2 separate regions of the Homo sapiens genome follow, and region 2 is linked to region 1. Evidence: fine-mapped QTL for protein levels in blood plasma. A gene starts in region 1. The other region holds a variant in brackets. All regions are shown on one strand. Distances are from middle to middle. Region 1 holds the start of AMBP (alpha-1-microglobulin/bikunin precursor). Region 2 overlaps AMBP (alpha-1-microglobulin/bikunin precursor).

Region 1 (2,913 bases):
AATGTGTCTTCTCTCAGCACTGGAGGTCAGACACCTGAGACCAAATTTTCAGCAGAGCCATGTTCCCTTTGAAGATTCTGGGGAAAAGTCCTTCCTTGCCTTTTGCTAGCTTTTGGTGGCTGCCATCAATCCTTGGTGATTTTTGACGTGTCACTGCATCCCTCCCATCTCTGCCTTCGGCGTCACGCCACATCTTCCCCGTGCTTCTCTCTGTGTCCCTGTGTCTGAGTCTCCCTCACCATTCTCTTATAAAGATACCGGTCATTGGATTTAAAACCCCTGTCATCCAGTTCAACCTCATCTAACTAATCACATCTGCAAATCAGGTTCATTCTGCGGTTCGGGGTGCACATGGATTCTGGAGGGGGCACTGTTCAACCCACCACAAACACTCAGCTCTTACTCTATGCTGGGTACTGTCCTAGCGCATTGCAGGTGCTCACTCAACAATGCTAGGAGCTAGGAACTATTATTATCCCCATTTACAGATGAGGAAACCAAGGCACTGAAAGGTAAAGTGACTTGCCCAAGGTCACACAGCAGTGAGTGCCACTGTAGGCTGCCTGGCTCCCACGTCCATGGTCTCTACCACGCCTTTCCCAGCTACTCCACTCCCGGCTGAGGGATTCTGGGCAAGTCACTTCACTTCTTGGAGACTCAACTCCTCTGCCTGTAAAGGGGACAAATAGCACCTACTTCGTAAGCTTGTTGTGGGGATTTACTGGACACCTGTGGCACGTGTAAAGTGCCTGGTACACAGCCAGCACATAGCAGGTGCTCAGTGAACGGAAGCTCGTAACAGTCATCATTGTTAATGTCTCTATTATTTGCAAAGGCTAGGGCAAGCCTGGGGGCTGGAGAAGGAACTCTGGAGACAGGATACCTGGGTTCTGGTCTTGGCTCTGCCCATAGACTTCCCTGAGGTCTCTGGCAAGTCACTTCCTCTCCTTGGGCCTCAGTTTTTTCCTGTGAGAAATGGGCCCAATCAGGCTTGACCTGCTGGCTCACAGAGCTGTGAGGTCCAGATGGCATGACTCAGCAGAAAGGCCAGGTCGCTCCCCATCCTCGCATGCCCTCTGTGGGGGACTTTTGGGGGGCGGAGCCCAATCCTGGTGCTCCAGGGCCCTATTGTGCTTGGCCAATGCCTCTTCTGAAGCAGCCATCCCGGCCTCTTGGTACTGCTGACCCCAGCCAGGCTACAGGGATCGATTGGAGCTGTCCTTGGGGCTGTAATTGGCCCCAGCTGAGCAGGGCAAACACTGAGGTCAACTACAAGCCACAGGCCCCTTCCCCAGCCTCAGTTCACAGCTGCCCTGTTGCAGGGAGGCGGTGGCCCTTCTGTTGCTAGACCGAGCCTGTGGGATATACCAAGGCAGAGGAGCCCATAGCCATGAGGAGCCTCGGGGCCCTGCTCTTGCTGCTGAGCGCCTGCCTGGCGGTGAGCGCTGGCCCTGTGCCAACGCCGCCCGACAACATCCAAGTGCAGGAAAACTTCAATATCTCTCGGGTAAGGCTGCCGCTCTCTGTGGTAGGGTGGATGTGGTGATGGGGAGTCCAGGCAGATGGGCCCTGCTGGGCAAGTGCGGCCTGTCTCGGGGTCTCAGGCTTCCACTCAGATCATCTGGGATTATGGGATCCTTTGAAGGTACAGCTCTATCCCCTGCCATTCCGTGGGTCTCTTGGCTGACATTCTATGAGTCAAACATCCTCACCTTCTGCACTGTCCTCGTGGGCTCCAAGGGGAACCCTTGTGTTAATGGGAACCTGCTCCAGAGAAGGCTTTGTCCTGCCTGCCACTGCCCTGCAGCCCCCGTGCAGACACCTAGCTTTGCCCAGACCTCCCAGCCCTTCCTTCTCTAATGACTCCCCTCTCTCTGTGGCATCTTTCCCTTAGCTCTTCCTGTGTCCCCTGCCCACATCCTGGCCTGACTGTGGACAGACACCTGGGGTGGCACAGCGTGGGCATGTGGCCAGCAGCTTTTGGGTTGGGCATGTGGGGCTTATGGGAAGAGGTGAAGCAGGACAGAGATTAGGGTTGGGAGACATTCAGAGGCTTGGGCACAAGGAGAGACCTGGACTGGGGCAGGACACTCTCCTGTGAGTGTGGAGTGCCAGAGCTGCCTTCCAGCCCCCACTCTGCCCTAAATCCCGGGGTGGCTTTGAGAATACCCTTGCCCACCTGGGGCTGTCTCCATGTCTGTATGAAGGGTCTCAGAACCTTCTAGCTGTGGTGTCATGTGGGTTTTGTTTACTTTTAGGGACAAGGAAAGGTCGTGGCAGAGGGGCAATGAGGAGCAGGTCCCTGTGGCAGTCTGGGACGCAAAGGGTGTGGGGCACATTGGCCTGTTCCGTAGGAGCCTGAGGGCTCCTTCAGCTGTCCCGTGCACTTTCAGGAGGAAGAGGAAGCAGGCCTATCCTGAATGACCCCATCATGTTCATTATACTTTTGAAATAATTCCTAACATGGGGCTGTGGGCTGCCTTGCAAGGTGGGGAGCACCCCATCATTGGAGGAGTAAAAGACAGGACTCCAGCTCTTGGGGAGCAGTGGTTGATGGAGCTATGGACAGATCCCACATCTTGAGAGAGTTAGCCCTTCTGCAGGGCAGGTTGGGACCCCAGCCGCACACCTGCTTCCTGGGTTCGCTGTGATGCCTGAAACGCCACTCTTAGGGATCTGGCCTCCCTTGAAGGTGTGTGGCCTCTGATTAGTTGTAAGACATTATCCCTTAAAAGGATAAGTCATTTTGAGGAGAAGGAGGAGGAAGAGGAGGAGGTGGAGGGTGGGGAGCAGATGTCAGCCAGGTCTGCTTTGAGGTCTGAGACTGATGCAGACCCCCAGAGCTCACCTGCCTCCTAGATCTATGGGAAGTGGTACAACCTGGCCATCGGTTCCACCTGCCCCTGGCTGAAG
Region 2 (2,913 bases), 12 kb after region 1:
TTTGAGAAGGTCAGTCAGTTTCCTTCATATTTGATGCCATTTTGCTTGGGTGCAACAGTCTTGGGTCGCGTGTTCCTTCCCTTAGAACTTTGTATATGTTACTCCATTGTTCTCAAGCGCCGATTATTGCTATGAAAAAGCCCGAGACCCGTGTGATATTTCTTCTCTTTGTAGGCAATTTATTTCTTCTGTTCAGATGCCTGGGAAAACTTTATCATTAAAATCAACATCTTAACAAAACCTGTCTTGATGTTGAAAATTCTATTTAAAAATTTATTGGGGGTTGGGTGCAGTGGCTCATTCCTGTAATCTCAGCACTTTGGGAAGGTGAGGCAGAAGGATCACGTGAGGCCAGGAGTTTGAGACCAGTCTGGGCCACATAGTGAGATTCCATCTCTACAAAAAGTGTGTTTGTTTGTTTGTTTGTTTTAAATTAGCCAGCTCAGTGGGTGGCACTTGTAGTCCCAGCAAATCGGGAGGCTGAGGAGGAAGTATTGCTTGAGCCCAGGAGTTCTAGGTTACAGTGAGCTATGATTGTGCCACTGCACTCTAGCCTGGGCAACAGTGAGACCTTGTCTCTATTTAAAATATACATCCTGAGCCAGGCATAGTGGCTCACACCTGTAATCCCAGCACTTTGGGAGGTGAGGCGGGCAGATCAAGAGGTCAGGAGATCGAGACCATCCTGGCCAACATGGTGAAACCCCATCTCTACTAAAAATGCAAAAATTAGCTGGGTGTGGTGGCTGAGGCCTGTAGTCCCAGCTACTTGGAAGGCTGAGGCAGTAGAATCACTTGAACCCGGGAGGCAGAGGTTGCAGTGAGCCGTGATCGCGCCATTGCACTCCAGCCTGGGTGACAGGGCAAGACTCTGTCTCAAAATAATAATAATAATAATAACAACACATCCTGGAATTCAATGTTCTCTTTTCATATACAGATTACATTTCTTCTGTGTTTGAGGGAAATCTCTCTTGATATCATTGAGTTTATCTTCCTTCCTTTTGTTGGGTTTTGCTACCTCGGGAACACTTGTTCTCTCATCCAGGAGCATCTTTGCCTTCCACATCTATTAGTTTCTTCCCAGTCGCTTTCATCTCTTTGTCGTTTCCATCTGCATTCACTGGGATTATCACTAGTCTCTCTCCTATGACATTCATTGCATTTTTAGCAGTCATTCCTTTGTGCAGACCGTCATTTCATTCTGTTCCTTGCTATTTCTATTTCTAATTTATTTGCTGGTTCTGAATTATGTTGTTTTGGTTCTCAATTTGTTTCTGTAGGCTTGGATTTTCTCTTTTCATCTTATTCTGTTGTTTTTGCTCATGCGTATAATCCCAGCA[T/C]TCTGCGGGGCTGAGGCAGTAAGACTGCTTGAGGCCAGGAGTTCAAGACCAGCCTGGGCAACATAGCAAGACCCCATCTCTACACACACACACACACACACACACACACACACACACGTGCACATAAATGCATGTTCTGATTAAGTAATTCTATAGCTTGAAGGCATTGAGGAATTTCCTTCTGTTTCTTGAGTTCTGTTTTCTTCTGGTATCACAGGTTGGGTTCCCCAGGACCAACACCTGTAGGGGAGAAGACATGAAGGCAGGATAGGGCAGAGGAAGCAGTCCAGCTGTGATGCAGTTACAATGCCTCAGCCAACACTACAGGGACCTCTGACATTTCAGAGACGTCCCAAGATGCTGCAAAGGGGCTGAGCCCTAATACCCCTGTGTTGATCAGTCTGGGAGGTGCGCATGACCTTGGGTAAGATGGCTCCTTTAGCTGCCACAGTCCCCAAAAGGGGCTGACCCCTGGGGGCTGTCTGACAGTAGCACTGCCAGCGACTGAGAAAGTACATCCATTGCTGAGGGAAATCCAGGTAGTTTATTAAGGTGTCCACCACAGCTGGGCTCTTTCTCTTATTCAGGTTATTTATTTTTTTATTCACTTCTGAGGTGGGTTTGGGTAGTTTCTGTACCATTTATCTTCATCTTGCTTCTTCTTCGTCAGCTTTATCCAGACTTTCTGTTTGTTCTGGTACAATGGGAGGTGTCATTTACTCCTTGGTCCTCTTCCCATCAAATTTGAGCCCAATCCCACCTCCCCCTAGCCCCATCCTACTTTAGTGTAAGATCTGGGTGTTTTATGTTCATCAACTTTTGTAAAGTCCAAGGGAATGGTGAGGGTGGGGGTGGGGGTGGGGTAATGAACTGCCCCGAGGTGCACATGCGGGTCTGAATACTGTCTGTGTGTTTCCGGGGGCTGCCGTAACAGAGAACCACAAGCTGGGGATTTAAACAACACAGATTTGCTGTCTCACAGTTCTGGAAGCCAGAAGTCCAAGATCAAGTTGTTGGTAGGGTTGGTTCCTTCTGTGGGCTTCGAGAAAGAATCTGTGCCGTGTCTCTCCCATGGCCTCTGGTGGTTTGCTGGCAGTCTCTGGTGTTCCTTGGCTTGTTAAAAACATCATCCCAATTCCCACCTTTATCTTCACAGGGAGTTCTCTATGTGTGCGAATCACCCGTTTATAAGGACACCACTCATATTGGATTAGGGTCCACCCTAATAACCTCATCTTAATTAATTGCATCTGAACAATCTGATTTCCAAATAAGGTCACATTCTGAGGTTCTGGGGGGTTAGGACCCCAGTATATGAATTTTGGGGGTCACAGTTCAATCCATAACATCCTTCCTCTGCTTCTGTTTGGAAGGACTGCTGAATGTTCTGGATGGGGCTCATTATCCCTAGGTGGGCTGGTGTGATATAATCCATCCTACGACAACATGTCCTGGAGCACTCAATTGTATAGCCCTGGAACTTTTACTACCATTCCTCCCATTCTGTGAACTCCATTTTTGCTTTTTACTCCTTTCTCTCCAAAAGGCATGTTCACTACTCCTCTGTCAG

The links. A credible set is the group of variants that fine-mapping cannot tell apart. PIP is the posterior inclusion probability: the model's chance that the variant is causal. Protein levels are from antibody-based Olink assays in UK Biobank. Linkage for the fine-mapping came from a reference panel and not from the study's own genotypes, which makes the PIPs less certain.
Region 2: its variant is the best candidate, but not a certain one, in a credible set for the plasma level of the AMBP protein (UK Biobank, PIP 0.53).

The regions. Positions count from the first base shown.
Region 1 is chr9:114,076,687-114,079,599 of GRCh38, reverse strand. AMBP (alpha-1-microglobulin/bikunin precursor) reads left to right here and starts at 1,300. Exons shown (of 10, transcript NM_001633.4): 1 at 1,300-1,507; 2 at 2,860-2,913. The coding sequence starts at 1,391.
Region 2 is chr9:114,064,924-114,067,836 of GRCh38, reverse strand. All of the region lies in intron 6 of AMBP (alpha-1-microglobulin/bikunin precursor), which reads left to right. Among named protein-coding and RNA genes, the nearest start is that of AMBP, 12 kb to the left of the region's middle. The variant T/C (reference allele first, on the strand shown) is at 1,344.